2 separate regions of the Homo sapiens genome follow, and region 1 is linked to region 2. The links come from fine-mapping of genetic effects on gene expression. A gene starts in region 2. The other region holds a variant in brackets. All regions are shown on one strand. Distances are from middle to middle.

Region 1 (9,497 bases), 70 kb before region 2:
GGAGAACCTTGCCTGACAACTCCACATTCATTCCCTTGTGGTGGGCACCTGTCTGTGGGGAGATGTGTGCAAGCTCAGCCACTCTGAATATGGAAAAGGTCAGGCCGGGCTGGTCCTGCTCTTCACTCCCTCTTCTTGATCCTGTAGGGAGTGGAAATGTGTTTTTGCTTGCTGCCTGACCCCTGATGTTCCCCATCTTTGGTCGGGGAAGACTGTGACAGAGGAAGGAGAAAAAATAGAAGGAAACAGACTGATCCCTGGGCTGTGCTCAAAATAGCTGCCCTTTAAAGGAAATCAGGCAGGGAGGGGAGGGAAACCAGCGAAAAAGAAATTTGCTTTGCAACAACCCACGCACACATTCACCCCTGAAGTATATCATGAACAGACCAAGCCATCCAGAAAGGCAGCCGGTCAGGAGGGTGTGGGCAAACATGACTGCATCTGCCTCACTGTTGTCTGGAGTAACGACTCAGGTGGTGTCCTGCAGCAGTGCTGTGCTTTCTCATTCCAGATGGAAGCAAGTGAGCCAGGGTCAAATTCCCTTCTCCAGGGGAATGAATCAAGCCCAAACTGTAACAGCTAAATAAGTAGAAGTTTTTGCAGGTCATCAGCTCTGGGCATAACTAATTTGTTTTATTGGTTCTGGAAGATTTCCAAAAAGCCAGAATTTATTATTATAACAGTGTCCACTCCACTGCCCTCACAGTTGTGTAAAATAATTATAGAAGTTTTAATGATCCTGATTAAGAAGACCCTAGACAAAGGCAATTCCACCTTCAGAGTAGACTGCCTGCCCTAATGAGGTGTTTAGACATTCGTGTCTCCTATGGCTGGGATGGAAATTAAAATAACACTATTTAAGGACAGAGCGGGCCAGGAGCAGTGGCTCATGCAGGTAATCCCAGCATGGGAGGCTGAGGTGGGTGGATTACTTGAGGTTAGGAGTTCAAGACCAGCCTGGCCAACATGGTGAAACCCTGTCTACTCAAATACAAAAAATTAGCCAGGCATGGTGGCTCACACCTGTAATCCCAGCAACTTGGGAGGTTCAGGCACAAGAATTGCTTGAACCCTGGAGGTGGAGGTTGCAGTGAGCTGAGATGGCACCACTGCACTCTAGCCTGGGCAACAGAGCGAGACCCTAACTCAAAAAAAAAAAAGGACAGAGGGGAGGAAGGAGCAGAAACCAAAAATGGCAATTAGGGAGAAATCTCAGGAATGTGGCATCCCATCTCCCCTTGAGACCTATCACTGAATTCACAACCCTTCGAGCTCATGCTGGTGCACTGAGTCCCTTGGGCGCTGTAAAGGTTTAACCCCTTGACTGTAAACTCAGACTTAGAGACATCTGAGTCACACAGTCCCCGCCATTGTCACATATTCTCACTGACACTGCAGTCTGTGACTCCTCCAATGTTTCACGTGTATTTTATATTTATTGATGTCTCCTTCCGCAGATTCATTTCTTTGTACTTAATAAACTTTAGTAAGTGGAAATGCTTCCAGTCGTTTCCTTGTTAAAACCCATCGGTGGTCACCAGTATCAATCTAAACCAAACATTTTTAAGGATCAGGAGAAGTTGAAGTTCTAAGAATGATAGAAAAAAAATAGATATTTACATGGATACGGTGCTTGCTGTAACATACTGTGTTAGAAACAGGGCCTTTCTTTCTTGAGCTAACTAGCCTAATTGGTATTTGGAAAAAACAAGCAAGAAAAAAAAAATTTCTCAGGTGCATTTTTTAAAAAGTAGATAACACTATATTTATTCAGTTTGATTAACACAGAATGGGCAGTGTATTGCTTATAAATTCTGCTAAATTGTGTTGAAATAGAACAACCTTCCCTCTACGTGCACTTAGTCCCCACTCCCAACTCAGCAAACCCCCCAAAAAAGCCTCCTGTAGGAACAGAATCATCTTGAATCCCCCTGTAGTATTTTAAGGTGGACCTTTGGGAACAGGGTTCAGGGGAGGTGAGATTTATCTGCTAGGCAAGCTATCTCAGAGCTAGTGCTTAGAAGGCAAACCAGGATCTGAATCTCCATTTTGCCTCTTACAAGTTGCCTCTTACAATCTGTGCCTCAGCTTCCTCATTTGTCAAAAGGGGACATAAATATGTACCCGAGTGTATATTGGTGAAGATTCAATGATGTAATACACATGGGCAAGCCCTCAACCCTTGGATCACAACGGAGCCAGTGATGCACACCCTGCACCCCGGGGAGCAGCCAGTTTGCTGGTTCCATGCTTGGGCACAAACAGGGCTCTGCTGGCTGCATCCCAGGCACTTCATTCAGTATTTGCTGAGCTACTCAGACCACACTTCACTAACTCTGCTGCTGGATAACAATGAGAGAGCAGTCATTAAAATTCATAGATGTTCCTGAAATAAATCTCATCTAGAAACTAATTTCAAAGCTGGTTACTACACACTTTGCATCAGAATTAGTTAAGGGGCCGTTTTATTGCTCTCTTATTGGTGGAGGTACAGATTGGCTCTTTGATGGCCAAAAGGGCCAGTCTGAATGGGGAAGAAAAAGTAAGGGCCGAAGATAATCTACAAAGTGGATGATGAACTTCAGAGTCACATTGAGCATGGCCGTGGTGAAGTAGCTAGAAGTGTAAGCACCTTTTATGGAGCTAAGTGTGAGAGACGTGCTTCCTAGAGAGGGAGCAAGTTAATGGGAAGGGCCATGGACTCCAGAAGCAAGTTCCAAATTCTCAGACGGTGCCCCGGGAGGCTTCAGCATCCTCCACCCACCCATTCTGTTATGGGTCGAATTGTGTCCCCACAAAAATCCATAGGTTGAAGAAGTCCTAACCCCCAGTACCTCAGAATGTGACCTTATTTAGAAATAGGCCCATTGCAGATATCGTTAGTTAAGATGAGGTCATACTGGATTAGGGTGGGCCCCTGATGCGATATGACTGGTGTCCTTATAAAATGAAGAAATTGGACACAGACATAGACACAGGGAGAACGCCACATGAAGATGAAGGCAGAGATAATCAGGATGCTGCTTCTATGGGTCCCAAAGTGCTGAAGATTGCCAGCAAGCCACCAGAAGGTGGGCAAGAGACATGAAACACATTCTTTCTCACAGCCCTCAGAAGGAACCAACCCTGCAGATGTCTTATTCCTGGGACGTCTGGGCTCCAGAACTGTGAACCAGGAAATTTCTCCTGGTTACGCTGCCCAGTTTGTGGTACTTTGTGACGGCAGCCCCAGCAAAAGAATACAGGCTTTGTCACCCAGAGCTTTGCAGGAGGGTACAATGTTTATGAAAAGAGAGCTGGGAATAAAATTTCAGAATTAGCAGCTCCTTATCATGTAAACAGAGCAGTCATCTACCCTGACCTTGAAATAGGTCATTCATTGCAGGTGACTAAGTCCTATCTTCACGAGCAAGACATTCAGTTGCGTTTTACCTGTCACAGTGGAGAGTCATGGAAAGCAAGCTGGCATTTCTGGGTCACAGGAGTGAAGAGAGCTGGCTTTTTCCCTAAGTGGCATCCTCTCCTGTTGTGGCATTGCTGATGCCTTGGAATCAAGATGTCTGGCACAGAGTACCAGCCACTCTGATGATCTAGACTTCCATTCTAATAACTATGGTAAAATACACATAAAGTCTACCATGCTTACCATGTTTAGTGCTTAATTCATTCGTGTTGCGTACATTCATATTGTTGTACAACCGTCACCACCATCCCTCTCCATAACTTATCTTGCGAAACTTTCTGAAACTCTATACTCATTAAACAGTAACTCCCAATTTCTCCCCCACCTCCAGCCCCTAGCAACCACCCTTCTAATTTCCGTCTCTGTGATTTTGACTGCTCTAGGTACCTCATAGAAATGAAACCATATAATATTCGTGACTGGTTGATTTCACAGAGCATAACATCCTTAAGGTTCATCCATGTAGCATGTCAGAATCTGCTTCCACTTTTTAAGGATGAATAATATTCCATTGTATGGATAGAACACATTTTGTTTCTCCATTCTTCCATCTGTGGATATTTGAGTTGCTTCCAGATTTTAGCACTGTGAATAGTGCTACTATGAACATGGGTGTGCAACCTCTCTTCCAGACCCTACTTTCAATTCTTTTGTGTATACCCAGAAGTGGGATTGCCCGATTATACAGCAGTTCTGTTTTTCATTTTTTGAGCAACTCCATACTGTTTCCCACAATGGATGCACTGTTTTACATTCCCACCAACAGTACATAAGGGTTCCAATTTCTCCACATCCTCACCCACATTTGTTATTTTCTGGTTGTGGTTTTTTGTTGTTGTTGTTGTTTTTGTTTTCAATAGTAGCTATCCTGACGGGTGTGAGGTGATATTTCGTTGTGGTTTTATATTTAAAGACTGAATTTATCCACAGAACATTACATGATGCAAGAAACTGCTGAACTGACTGTTTTCTAAAGATTCTAGCCAGAAAAATATATCCATTCTCATACATTTTCTATATTGCGACTGAGGCCCACGTTTATTCACGAGACACAAAACAGAAGAGGCCACTCCACTGGATGTTAATTTCAGTTTTTTTTATTGTATGCTTGATGCATTTAGAGACAATTCCAAGGGCAAGCACTGGATAGGGATATTATCTGCTTTGTAGATATTTGTACAAAAGACTGTTAAGACTACATGGCCAGTTCCCACTGCAGGAAACAGAATGATTTTCTTTTTTTTTTATTATTATTCCCTGCCAATAGCATTTTCCATCTAACACATTTAAATTCTCACAGCATAATTGCAAACATGTACATATTGGTTCCCACGAGAAATCTGCAGGTGACATTTCGGGATGTTTGGAGTCAATCAGATAAAGCACATTATGACAGAAACCATAAGAGGGGAGCTGGGACCTGGGACTGTGCAGAATGAAAAGCCACGGCTACGGGAAGCATAAGCTTGTGCTGCAACGGCATGTGCACATGACCTGCTGCTCCTGGCCCTCTACGAAGCATGCCCAGCAAGGGAACCTCCTCCGTCCCTCCTCCACGTGCTTCCTTCCTAAGGCTGAGAGCTCAACTGAAGACCTTCCCCAATAAATGACAGATGGCTCTTCAGTCAGGAATGCAGTTAGTGGTTTCATGACAGACACACTGGTCCCACCCGGCTTCCCTGCTGAACCACCCAGTACTGAATAACACCTGTACCAATGTGGGATGACATCAGCTAGGAAGCAAAGTAATTTGCCTGGTTGATGATTATTTTTTATACCTAATGATTCACCCAATAGTAAAGGAACCCCACAGCTAAGGTCTAACAGGCATATACCTGCTCTGTTAGTTTATAAGAAAGACTCGTTCTAATAACACCAGGTCTTATATTATTGAGCACTAAGGAACCTCCATAATTTCGATTATATTCTACCTAAAATTTCAAAGCACCTCCAAGAATGAAAGGGTACTATTTCTGCTTTGCTAATTTACTCCTGCCAGAGCTTCTGTCCTTGAATATGAGGGCTATCTTCACCTATAGTAAATCCCATCTATTAGACAAGACTAGCTAGCTTATGTTTGGTTATGGGGCAAGGGAGTGGGGGAGAGATTCTGTCCTTTCTGGCTATGGCTTCTTTCTGCACAAGCATGCTCAGCCCCCACCCCAGTCTGAAAAGATACACAAAGGGTTTCCTAGGAAGCTACTTATACACTATGACCCTTAAACATAATTTTTGTATTTCATCTTGAATATTCATGTTCCCTATACTGCCTTCAGAAAAGCAATCCCTGGTCCACAAATTATTCATGTAACAAGCATTTTTCAAAAGCAAAATCTGTTAGGAACATTTAAAAATGAACATTCCTCACTATAACAGCCTGCTCAAAACCCAACAACCTATTTCCAGCTGTTAATATAAGTACATAAAGTCACTAAAAGTAAGCGCAGCCACATCAGCAGATTCTCTGCTCTCTTGTCGTCTTTCTCCACCCATCCCAATGCACAACTGTCAACTGTGCTTATAGACCACCTCCAGACCTGATGGGAGCTGCCACACCCCTTTTAACTTTTGCCAGGCTGTACCATGCCCTCTAGTGGTAGGACTAGGACATCACAATTGTGGTGCAGAGTATTAGCCAAGACAGCTCTCAATTAGGGTTGCCTTCTTTAAGATGCTTGACCAAGGTCAATGTACCCTAACAGAAGTAGCCATTGTGTTTCCCAATGGGTAATGACATAAAGCGGGTAGGGTTATCCATGGCCTTTGTTTGGCCCATAGAAATGAAAGGAGGCTTCTGTGTAATTAATTCTTACTAGACTTCTTTTGATCAAATCCTGAATCACCTTGGTTATCTCAGACATGTCAGGTCTGATGAGACATTTCATAGTAGGCGAAGGTGAAATCACTCAGTGAGATTTTAGAGCAGCTTTCTGTATCATCTTGCTTTACATAGCCACTTGG[A/G]ACATGGACTTGGGAGGGGAGAGTTACCTACGTCATCCTCGAACCTCACTTTCCCCCCCCCTTAACAGTGATAGAAAGACACTTTTAGAATAGCCGCCCCACCTAAAAGGACACTCTAAATTCACCAACAGTGAAAGCCCAGGCCAAACCTGCGTGAAGCTCTTAGCAGCTACAGGCCACCATTATTGGTTGCCATTAACTCTGTCAGCTGAAATCGTCTTCCCATCACCCACAATGTGTGGTTAATGATTTTATATACAGAGTTTACAAAACTGCTGACTAAAAAGCTCATGGCACTCCTATACTCACGCTCTGGAGAGTTGGTAGAAAAAAAGAATGTGTTCTGATAAAACCTCTGATCCTCACTGTTCACATCCATGTAACAGGGCTCGGTCCCCTCAAAATCTCATGATACAGCTTCTGGGAAGGAGTTATTAACCCTGTCACTTCCCAGATTGCTGATACTCACAATGTTTCCATTTGCAGATTCCTGCCAAGAATGATGAGGCAGGATTAGGCCCAACTGGTGCTCTCCCACTAGCTGCTGTATTTACATACACTTCTGTTCATCATCTCTGCCCGTTTCAGGAGTAGCTGAGAGCTTGAATAGGTGGCGGTAAGCTCCCACCACCACCCCATGCCCAGTGCAGCTACCCGCCTGAATGAAGGCAGCTCCTGGGACATGTGAGGTGTGAGGAGTGGGGGGAAGATCCAGGGAAGTCAGCTGCTTTGTATTTGGGTTTGTGGGATGTAATGGCCTTGGCAGGAATGGTGGGGCCTGAACTGGTATCCTGCAGAGAAATGCTTCTATATCCATCTATCACCTCCTTGCCCTCTGTCTTCCCAATGCTAAGCCCATCTGGTCTTCCTTGCATGCTTTTCTATGCTCTGGTGGTAAGTCAAATCCTTTAAGTGAACCCGACATTGGAAACAAATCAGTTTAATTAAAGTCTCTCTGCTGAGATAATGTAGTGACTGCTAGGATTCCAGATATTTAACTAGAATCTAAATAGTCAAGAGTTCTTCCTTTTCTTTCCCTCCTTGGCTGAGAGATTCACTACTCTGTGGGTGGAACTGTGCCATAGGGCCATTCAATTACTCCTAGACTAGCTGTTGGTAACTAGACTGGGAATCATTTCTACACAAGGAATCCTGTGATGGCTGTGCTGCTGTGTGGGGAGAGCTGCCTCCTGGGACATCCATGCAGTGATTCAGAAGGCCACCAGCATGGCTATGTCTGAATCTCGGAAGTGAATAGGTTCCAGCTAACAAATTATCAGCTCTCCTGTAAGTGGAAGCAGCTCTGCAGTCCACCACACATAAGCACAGCGCATGGAAAATGGGAAGACAGCTTCTTCAGGAGCCCAGGATGTAGGAAGGAGCCAGGACTGGAGAGGGGTCCCTTTCTTCCTTCCAATTGGTTCTGCCCCCCAGAAGACACCTGTAGAGACACTGTGCACTACAGGCATGCACTCACGGGAGGCCACGGAGGGTCCCCTTGACAACACACACAAGAGCCCTGTGTGTGTGCACAAATGCCTCTTGTTAACCTGAAAGAAACCGCTACTGAGGGAAAGACTAAGACTTCAAAAGAATTTGCTTTTCCCGCCAACTCGGCACTGTGAAGCCTGCCTTTCAAGGCTTGATGAACTCTAGTCCTCTTGTAAAAGGCTAATGTGTCCATTGCCACTGAAATACAATAATAGCAGCTTAAAATCCACAATTAGTCACACAACCGAACAACAGGCAACGGGATACATGTTACACTGCACAGGAAGGAGACCTACATTGCAGAAGGGGACGCTGTGAGATTCAAGGTGGAACACAAGGTAACAGTTTGATCTGGCTTCAGAAAAGGAGGCCACATATTAACTTTCTCATTTTACTCAAACAGGAGAGTGGTTTGTTTTGCTGGTAATTTAGTAAGGTGGGAAGTCTTAAATAAGAAGGGGAAAGGGAACGCTTACTTCACTTAAAGAACTTAATCTCCGTGTCAACACAGTCATAGAAAAGGTCCCCCACTTCCGCAGGGTCCAGTGGCTCGGAGCTGGTCAGGATTTCTTCCATGGCTTCCAGGCCTTGCTTCTCCAGCTCCAGCATGGTGCTCCTCAGCTTGCGACCTTGCTCCTGAGGAAGGACACGACTGCTTTAGGTGTCAGCAAAATAGCAGGGGACATTGCAGCGGACACTGAAACCCTCTAGGGGGCCAGCTGGCTTCCTGCTCAAGGTCCTGTCCTCCCCACACTCCGTTTCACACACGACTGCCGCAGGGATTGTTCTAGAATGCCAGTATGATTATGTCACTGCCCGGCTTAGAACACCTGCACAGCTTTCTGCTGCCTTCAGGACAAAGCCCAGACCCCAGAGTGACACTGAGGGAAGGCCCTTCTGACATCCAAGACCACTTCCCCTGCATCTCCCCACTCCTCAGCTGGACTGAATTCACTGTAGCCCTCCAGCCTCTGCTGCTGTCTCGCCCCTGCACAGGTGGCCCTGCCCTCTGGAGGGCCATCCCCTTTCTCAGCGCTTGGTCGACGTGCACCCATCTTCAGCTTCCTTGCAAAGCCTTTCCTCTTCCCCGCACAGTGCCACACCGTTCCCCCTGCCATGGGCGCTGTCTCCCACCTTGTGCTGGCTTGCCTCTGCAGCTGTGGCCCCTTGGATGGGAACTGGGCTCATTTCTATCCTCCAGTGACTGGGAGGGCACTCTCAAAAAATGTTCATTGAATGAAAAAAAAAATGGATCAATGAATAAACAGGTGCCATGTCTCTCCCCTGTTCACTCTTTTTCTGAGATGGTGAGTTCACTTCTTCCATGGGACTCACTCATTTATGGCAGATGACAGTGAAAGCTTTCATTTGCCCCATGAGTCCCAGAACTGAGAAGCTGCTCTCACCACCCGCCCACCACTGCTTCATGCAGCATCATGTGACTCCACCTGAGAGTCATTTGTAAATTTCAAAACCCACCAGCCTCAGCAGCCTCATCTTGAACACACAGCCCTTTCTACCTCTTCATTCTAATGAACCAAATACCCAAAACACCATACACCACACAGCGACAGTTTTCATC
Region 2 (9,541 bases):
TTTGGGAGGCCGAGGCGGGCAGATCACCTGAGGTCAGGAGTTCGAGACCAGCCCGACCAATATGGTGAAACCCTGTCTCTACTAAAAATACAAAAGTTAGCCGGGCTGTGGTGGCGCACGCCTGTAATCCCAGCTACTCAGGAGGTTGAGGCAGGAGAATCGCTTGAACCCTGGAGGCAGAGGTTGCAGTGAGCCGAGATCGTGCCACTGCACTCTAGCCTGGGTGACGGAGGGAGGCCCTGTCTCGAGAGAGAGCAAGACAGATGCGAACCATATTTGCAATTTTATATTTTCTAGTAGCCACATTTTTAAAAGTAAAGAGAAACTCATGGAATTATTTTTAGTAATATATTTTACCCAATATATCCAACATGTTACTTCAATATAAAATCAATATAAAATTATTAATGATATTTTAAATTCTTTCTTCATATTAAATTTTTGAAATTGTGTGTATATTTTACACTCAGCATATCTCAATACAAACTAGCTGCATTTCAAGTGCTCAATAGCCACATGAGGCTGGTGGCTACCAGATGAAACAGCACAGATCTAGACTCTAATGAAAACGGATTTAAAAAAAAATAACTTTTGTTTATCTGTATTCTTATTCTTCAACAGACACAAATTGCATGCATTTCTGTATTTTTACAACTTGCTATTTTAAATATCTTTGGCATATCTTCACATTCATCCTCTAATGCAAGTTAGTTTTCTAATTTTTTTAATTTTTTTTTTTTTTTTTTTTTTTTTGAGACGGAGTCTCGCTCTGTCGCCCAGGCTGGAGTGCAGTGGCACCATCTCGCCTCACTGCAACCTCCGCCTCCCGGGTTCAAGCGATTCTCCTGCCTCAGCCTCCCAAGTAGCTGGGACTACAGGCGCGTGCCACCATGCCCGGCTAATTTTTTGTATTTTTAGTAGAGACGGGGTTTCACCGTGTTAGCCAGGATGGTCTCGATCTCCTGACCTCGTGATCCGCCCGCCTCGGCCTCCCAAAGTGCTGGGATTACAGGCGTGAGCCACCGCGCCCGGCTGCAAGTTAGTTTTCTAAATGGCACATGTCACATCAGCATCTGTCTTCACTTCGATATATATATTCATATTTAGCTCCTATCTGTTCCACTGCCTCAAGACATTCTCCCTGTTCCCTGCCTCCTGCCACCTTCTCCCTCTGCACATCACTGGCTGTGAAGGTTCAGATGCCCAGAAGAAACGTTTTCCACATCTTCACCACCTCTTCACACTAACCCATGCACAATTTCTAGCTCTGCTTTAGTAGATCTAAGGTCACTGACTCATGACTCAGAAAAGTCAAATGCAAATCATAGGAAAAGCCTGTCTTCACTGCTTCAAAGTTATGTTTACAATAGGCTTGTTATTTACTTTTACTTAAAATTAGAAACAGTCGAAAAAAATGAAATGCATGGCCTACTTTGGTTCCTTTTCAAAATAAACTGGCCTAATGGTTCTCCACAAACACAAGCAACTCAATTTTTAATCAAAAAATGTACTTCTTGCCTCAAAGACTTTACTAAAATAATGTTTTTGGTTCTTAACTATAGAAACAGTTTCACCACTGGAAAATGTGAACATGAGGTAGATACAGCTTAAGAAGTTAAAAGTCTTGAATTAGGAAATTAAGGTGTTGTCATTGACTTTAAACACCTATAGACTTTGTAATTCATATTACAGTTTGGCTTCCCATTGCTCGAAGTGTTTGCCTTCCTAATAATGACAGACTTGCTGTTCTCCCCCAGGCTCTAAAAGGTAGCATGTGGAACCCGGGGGAGTTATGAGACCTGGATTTGGGTTCTCACTGCCAGTTGACAGCCAGATATATGATCTTGGCGTCCATTCGCCCCGCTGGCCTCAGCCTTCCTGCTGTAAAAAGGGGGTTGACAGCAGGCTCCTTAAGACTGCCTCCACCTCTGCCCCCCGACCTTAGCTCATCCTCCTCTATTCCATTATCCCTGAAGCATTTGCCTCCTCATGTATCTCCTTCCCAAAAGACAAGATGGCTGGCAGCACGGAAGTGAAAAGGGAAAGAAAGGCTGTTTAAAAAAAAAAAATTCTAAAATGAGTCACCTTTCAAGAATTTCCCATTTCCTCATGCCTGGGTGCTTCCTCGTGTCGCTAAATCAGTTCTTCCAATGAAACTTGATCTAAGAACCTGGTATTTGTTATGTGCACTGCTCTTGGATGATGTTTACAATGTGCACACATCTCTTTTAAGAGCTTGTAGGTATCAAACGACCTCCAGGTTGTGCATCAAAAAGACATCAGCAGCCACAGAGTCAACTTTAGTTGAGCCTGGAGAAAATCATACAAAACCGTAGAGTTTTAACTAGGTTTTGTATCATCTTTTGATAAGTTAGGAAAAATAATTACAGCTCTCCAAACTTCCCACTTAACAACTCCCAGGACCCTGCAGCACCCTAAAATCTAGCCAGCTCCAAGAATCACTCTCTACTCCATACCCGGATGAGCCTTGACTCACACTAATTCCCTCCCTGAGGCTTAAGTCAGGGGGCAGCTGATGGTTGTGGTCTGTGCTGCTTCCGCCTGGCCTATTTTTCATGCTGCCATTTTGAATTAGCATAGGTTTCCTCCGCAACTGATGCATCTTCTAACCAGGCTGGGAACACAACACGCGCACACGCGCACACACACACGCACGCACCCACCCCACCCGGCTGCCGGACGCAAGCGTAAGTCAAGGACTTGCATGCTAGAATCAGACAGAAAATCCAGAAAAGCCACGTTATTTAACAGAACCCTACAAGGTCAGCTTTGAGTCAAAGCAGGTAACAGTTTCCTTCGATGTTTTCATGGACATTTTTATTCCCAAATCCGAGTTCTCGCCAATTCTCTAAAGTTCAAGCGCCCCTCCTGCTTTGCAGACCACATTTCTCTCGGCCCTCGCGAGTGAGGTCGCCAAATACTCGACGCCTCAAGAGCGAGCCGAGGAGGCAGAGGCCGACCAAGCCGGCCTCTCGGCAGCCCCGCCCGGCGCCCCGCGGAGAACGCCCGGGTGCGGCTCGAGGGAAGTTGTGTCAAGTCCCACGCGCGGCCCGCGGAGAACCCAGGGGCGGCCCGCGCGCGTCGGCCTAGCGGGGAGGGCTGCTCCGGGACACGGTGCGGCGGCCGCGGGCGAGTTGGACGCGCTGGCAGAGCCGGGCCGAAGGCGGCGGGCGTCTCCGGGCAGCCATGTTCGCGGCGCCCGCCCGCGCAGCAGGTACGGCACCTCGGGGAAGGTGCCCGGCTCGCCCCAGACCCCAGGGTGGCGAGGCCAGGGGCCCACAGGCACATCCCAGTGGGCAGCAGGTTGGCTGCCAGGAAAAGGAAACCCAGGAAGAGCAGCGCGGGGAACCCGGCTGCGGTGCGGGAGCCCGGGGCCGGCATCCCTCCACTGCACCCCCGCAGTCCCCGAGCCGAGTCACCCCGGCTTCAGGCCGAGGCCACCTCTCCTCTGACCGCCCCCAGGCTCCCAGCCCGCCCGGGCCAGCACCGGGAATCGGCCTGGGGTAACGCTACCCGCGGGTTCGGAGGGACAGCGGGAGGAGATGAAACGCAGGAGGTGGCGATGGCGGGTGGGGTGAAACCGCCGGGAAAGCAGCGCTGCAAACGCCCTGCGCTCCCAGACGCGGCTCACCTGGGGCGGCGGGCTCCGGGCTCCGCTCTCCGCTCTGCGGTGCTGAGGCTGCGGCCGCCGAGGGTGCGGGTGCTGCCGGGTCCGGATTACTGCGGCGACCTCGGGGGCTGCAGCTGCAGTGGCGGAGGCGGCCGCCGGGCGCTTCCCCCTACCCAGACTCCCGGCGCTGGGGCCCGCCGCCCCCCGCAGCAGCTGGCCCGACTCACGTGACCGCGGGCCCACCCTCCGCCTCCCCCACCCCGGCCCCCGGGGCCCCGCCGCACCCCGCGCGTCTGGCTGCACGGGCCGCGGCGCTGCTCACCGTCGAGTAGGGAGGGGGCCTGGGAGCTGGAGGAGCGGCCGAGAGGGCGTATCTCGCCGCAGAAAGTGGCCCCCTCTTTGCTAGATTTTTATTTCTTGGTTGTGGCTCTCAAAAGGGAAAACCCGGGCTTCAAGGAGCCAGGCCCAGCATCCTTTTGGCGCCTCTTCCCGACGTTTGGTTGCTACGTCCGGGCCTCGGCGCCCACACAAGATTTCCCCGGAGAGAAATGTGTCCTGTACCTTGTTGACTCGCACGTCCAAGTCGAGTCCCTGGTTTTAAAAGTGCCGTCCTGTACCATGTTGGTAAGCCAGACCCTGTCCCAGGTACTTGGACATTGTGGCCTAGAGAGGTTAAGTAACTTGCCCAAGGTCACACAGCACGTAACTAAGCCAAGATTCCATATCTGGGTTAATAAAGTTATGTACAGGGACTTGTGTGTTGTGTGTCTGTGTGTGTGTGTGTGTGTGTGTGTTGATGCCAGCGTCAACTCCATCTTTTATAAGTAAATAAGAAAAGACTATCTCAAAAGATATGAAGACGTAATTCAGAGGAAAATAAATGCAATTCTATCCTGGCACACGAAAAGATATTCAGGCTCACTTAACTGCAAATCAAATATGTGGGGTAGCATCTTCCACCAGCCAGATTAACAAAAATCAAAACATTTTGAGTCTTGCTTTGTCGCCCAGTCTGGAATGCAGTGGCAGGATCTCGGCTCACTGCAAACTCCGCCTCCTGCCTCCCGCCTCCCGCCTCCCGCCTCCCGGGTTCAAGCGATTCTCGTGCCTCAGCCTCCCAAGTGGCTGAGACTACAGACCCACGCCACCAGCCTCGCTAATTTTTTTTGATTTTTAGTAGAGATGGGGTTTCACCATGTTGCCCAGGCCGGTCTCAAACTCCTGAGCTTAGGCAATCCGCCTGCCTCTACTATCCAGCTTCCTTTAAAAAGGAGAATGATCTTTATTTGCTAATACAAAACTATTTCCAACCTATACTAACTAAAGAAAAATAAAAAGCTAGGTGCAGAACGTTGTGTGTGTTATTTGTGGGAAGAAAATATATATGTATGTCTGTACTTATTTTTGTAAATGCACAGAGTATCTTTGGAAGAGTACGTAAGAACCTGTAATAGATGCCACCAGGGAGCAGAACTGGGAGACTGGGTGCTGGGGAGAGAAGGAGACTTTTTTCCATGCCCTTTGAATGTTGAGCCTGTGCTTACAGTCTGACACATGAGTAAACGGATAGTGGGGAAGGGCTGAGGAAGTTGGTGTAGGTACTGCAGAATAGAGCATTGGTTCGTAGACTCTTGGAGCACAAAGGTACTTTACTGTTCTTTTAGTCTAGCCAAGAAAACTGTAGCCAATGAGTCTAAATAATCAATATTAGAAATTTCTAGCGGGCTTATTCCTGGGTTCCAGCCCAGATCTATGGAATTCAGAGTCTCTGGGGCTGGAGCCAGGGAACCCGCATTTTTCAAGCTCTTTAGTTGTTTCTCTTGCATGTTAAAGTCTGAAAGTCCGTGAGGTGTGGGTAGGGAGAGCATTAGGAAAAATAGGTAATGCATGCTGGGCTTAATACCTAAGTGATGGGTTGATAGGTGCAGCAAACCACCGTGGTACACGTTTACTTATATAACAAATCTGCACATCCTGCATATATACCCCAGAACTTAAAATAAATATTAAACTTTTTTTAAAAGTCTCAGAGTCGCTGTTTTATTTTTTGTTTGTTTTGAGATGGGATCTCGCTCTGTCACCCAGCCTCGAGGGAAGTGGCTCACTGCAGCCTCTACCTCCTAGGCTCAAGTGATCCTCCTACCTCAGCCTCCTGAGTAGATAGGACTACAAGCATGTGCCACCATGCCTAGCTACTTTTTAAAATATTTTTGTAGAAATGGAGTCTCACTATGTTGCCCAGGCTGGTTTCAAGCTCCTGGACTCAAATGATCCTCCTGCCTTAGCCATCTGAAGTGTTAAGATTACAGACGTGAGCCACCGTGCCCAGCCAGAGTCACTGTTTTAAATGTCTAGTTTAAGACTACACCACTACTAGAAAGGCAAATGCAATCCTGTGCCTTCCTATAGCCAGTATATGTCATTTGTTGTGTAAAGGATGGCACTTGCACCCTACGCTGCTCCCCTGGAGGCAGCCATATGCTCAGTACACGGATAGGGGATACTGCCAACCTGCCTGCCTGGCCTGAGATCTTTGAAGCCTGTTGGTTTGTCCCTACACAGCCACAGGAGCTTTGAGGCCAGGAGCCCAGGAACACATGGAGATTGAAAGACACCTGCTTTCCCCAGGGTCTGCATGGAGAAGCTTATTATATGGCACTATGAACGCTTATTAAACAGCAGCAATGACCGGGCATGGTGGCTCATGCCTGTAATCCCAGCACTTTGGGAGACCAAGGCGGGTGGATCACGAGGTCAGAAGATCAAGACCATCCTGGCCAACATGGTGAAACCCCGTCTCTACTGAAAATACAAAAATTAGCTGTGTGTGGTGGTGCGTGCCTATAATCCCAGCTACTTGGGAGGCTGAGGCAGGAGAATAGCTTGAACCAGGGAGTCAGAGGTTGCAGTGAGCCAAGATCGTGCCATTGCACTCCAGCCTGGGTGAGAGAGTGAGACTCCGTCTTAAAAAACAAAAACCAGCAGCAATACACTTATTTTGTCTCTGCTTTGTATCCAAAAGACAGTCCCTACTATTATTTGAGCTGCATAAATAGAGATAAGAGAACAGAACTGTCCAACAAATGTGGAGAACACCAAGAAATATCAGTAAGGGCTTTAATCATTGGCCTCTATCAATTATGTGAGGTTTAACTTTGAGTAAATTATAAGATTTCCATGAGCTAGCTTGCAAGGAAAAAAAATGTCTTAAATGACTTGCAACTGTTACACGGTCATTTATATTCCATCTAGTCATATTCAGAGACTTAAGAGCTAAAAAATACAAGTATAACAGATTTCCTTTTTTCTCTTCCGCCCTGAGAAGGACATGATCCCTACAGAGGTTACTCTCTGCAGCTGAGGCAGAAGGAGATTATAGCTAGAGGCTGTCTGCTAAACATGTCTGGAGGGTACACTCAGTGATGACCACAGATACTAATAGTGTTTTCAGTTTGGAACAATTATGAATAAAGCTGCTAATAATATTTATCTACAAGTTTTATGTAAGTGTAGGTTTTCATTTCTCTTGGGTAAACATTAGATTGGTGCAAAAGTAATTGCAGTTTTTGCCATTACTGTTTTAAAAATGGCAAAAACTGCAATCACTTTTGCACCAACCAACCTAATACTTAAGAGTGAAGTGGGTGAGTCATACGGCAGGTGTATATTTAAATTTATAAAAAGTTGCCAAACTGTATTCCAAAGTGGTTTTTACCATTTTACATTATATCAGAAATATATGAGAGTTCCAGTTGCTCCACATCCTTATCAACACTTGCTATTATCAATCTTCTAAATTTTATCGATTCTCACAAATGTGTACTGAAATCTCCTCGTGGTTTTAATTTATATTGCCTTTTTTTTTTTTTTTTTGAGACAGCATCTCACTCTGTCTCCAGGCTGGAGTGCAGTGGTACGATCTCGGCTCACTGCAACTTCTACCTCCCAGGTTCAAGCAATTCTCCTGCCTCATTCTCCTGAGTAGCTGAGACTACAGCTGCACACCACCATGCCTAGCTAATTTTTCTATCTTTAGTAGAGATGGGGTTTTACCATGTTGGCCAGGATGATCTTGATCTCTTGACCTCATGAGCCACCCGCCTCAGCCTCCCAAAGTGCTGGGATTATAGGCATGAACTACCATGTCCAGCCTATATTTCTTTGCTGATTAATAATGGTGAGCAACTTTTCCTATACTTGTTAGCCATTCATATATGTTCTTTTGGAAAGTGTTTAAGTCTTTTGCCTGTTAAAAAGTTTTATATTTTTAATTAGTATTATTATTACATGTTAAGAATTCCTTATATCTGGATACAAGTTCTTTATCATATTTATGTATTACAAATATATTCTTTCAGTATATGTCTCGCTTTTCATTAGTGGTGTCTTTTGAAGAGAAGATTTTAATTTTGTTATGCTCAATTTATCAATATTTTTTCTTTTATAGTTAATACTTTTTATGTCCTAAGAAATTTTGCCTACTCCAAGGTTGCAAAGATTTTCTTCTATGTTTACATCCAGAGATGTATAGTTTTTTAGCACTTATGTTAAGACCATGGTCCATTTCAAGTAAATTTTTGAATAAGTGGAGGTAAAATTCCAAGTTTATTTATGTGACTATTCAATTGTTCCAGCACCATTTGTTTTCCCCCAGGATTTACCATGCTATTGACAAAAGTCAATTGACCGTGTAAATGTAGGTATATTTCTCAACTCTCTCTTCCATTCTATTGGTCTACATAATTATTCTTTTTTTTTGAGACAGAGTTTCACTCTTGTTGCCCAGGCTGCAGTGCAATGGCATAATCTTGGCTCACTGCAACCTCCGCCCTCCAGGTTCAAGCGAGTCTCCTGCCTCAGCCTCCCAAGTAGCTGGGATTACAGGCATGTGCCACCACACCTAGCTAATTTTGTATTTTTAGTAGAGACGGGGTTTCTCCATGTTGGTCAGACTGGTCTCGAACTCCTGACCTCAGGCGATCTGCCCACCTCGGCCTCCCAAAGTGCTGGGATTACAGGCGTGAGCCACCATGCCCGGCTATGTATTTATTCTTATGCCAATACTATACTCTCTTGATTATTATAGATTTATATCAAGTCTCGAAGTCAGGCAGCTTAAGTCTTCCAAGTTTGTTCTTTTTCAGAACTGTTTTGGCTATTCTAGGTACTCTGCACTTGGTTATAAATTTTAGAATCAGCTTGCCAATTCCTATACAAAATGCTGACTGGAATCACATTCAATCTATAGACCAATTTGAGGAGAATTTACATCTTAATAATATTGAGTCTTCCAATCTATGAACATGGTATATTTCTCCATTTTTTTAGGTTGTCTGTAAGTTTTCTCAGCAAATATTTAGAGTTTTCAGCATACAGGTCTTGGACATATTTTATTTAATAATTATTTCATGTTTTTGGGTGTTATTGTAACTAATCATTTTAAATTTTATTTTTCAATTGTTCATTGCTAGAATATAAAAATGCAATTGGTTTTTGTATATGGACCTTATATCCTATGACTTTACTAAATATGCTTATGAATTCTATTAACTTTTTCATCATTTGTTAGAATTTTCTCTGTACTCAATCATGTTGACTAAAAATACATTTTTAGTTATTCCTTTTCAATCTATTTGCCTTTTAATTCTTTTCCATATCTTATTGCATTTGCTAGGACCTACTTAATGCTATAGAGGAACAGTGAGAACAAACAAGTTCAGTCATTCACCACTAAGTATGATATTATTTGTAGAGTTTTTTACAGATACCATTTATCATGTTGAGGAAGTTTCCTTCTTTTCCTACTTTGCTGATAGTTTTATTTGTTTTTTCATTTGTTTTTAATGATGAATCAGTGTTGAATTTTGTCAGCTGCTTTTTCTGCATCTATTAAGATGATGAAATGCTTTT

Evidence for each region. PIP is the estimated chance that this variant, and not a neighbour inherited with it, causes the effect.
Region 1: its variant is fine-mapped to the expression of SCRN1 in whole blood (INTERVAL, PIP 0.90).

The regions. Positions count from the first base shown.
Region 1 is chr7:29,915,565-29,925,061 of GRCh38, forward strand. SCRN1 (secernin 1) reads right to left here. Exons shown (of 8, transcript NM_014766.5): 8 at 4,545-8,551. The coding sequence ends at 8,393. WIPF3 (WAS/WASL interacting protein family member 3) reads left to right here. Exons shown (of 9, transcript NM_001080529.3): 9 at 1-1,497. Among named protein-coding and RNA genes, the nearest start is that of FKBP14-AS1, 68 kb to the right of the region's middle. The variant A/G (reference allele first, on the strand shown) is at 6,425.
Region 2 is chr7:29,985,990-29,995,530 of GRCh38, forward strand. SCRN1 (secernin 1) reads right to left here and starts at 3,812. Exons shown (of 8, transcript NM_014766.5): 1 at 3,653-3,812. It overlaps FKBP14-AS1 (FKBP14 antisense RNA 1), which reads left to right and starts at 2,667. Exons shown (of 3, transcript NR_187577.1): 1 at 2,667-2,804. RefSeq lists silencers at 3,039-3,158, 3,249-3,518, 3,529-3,578, 3,599-3,938.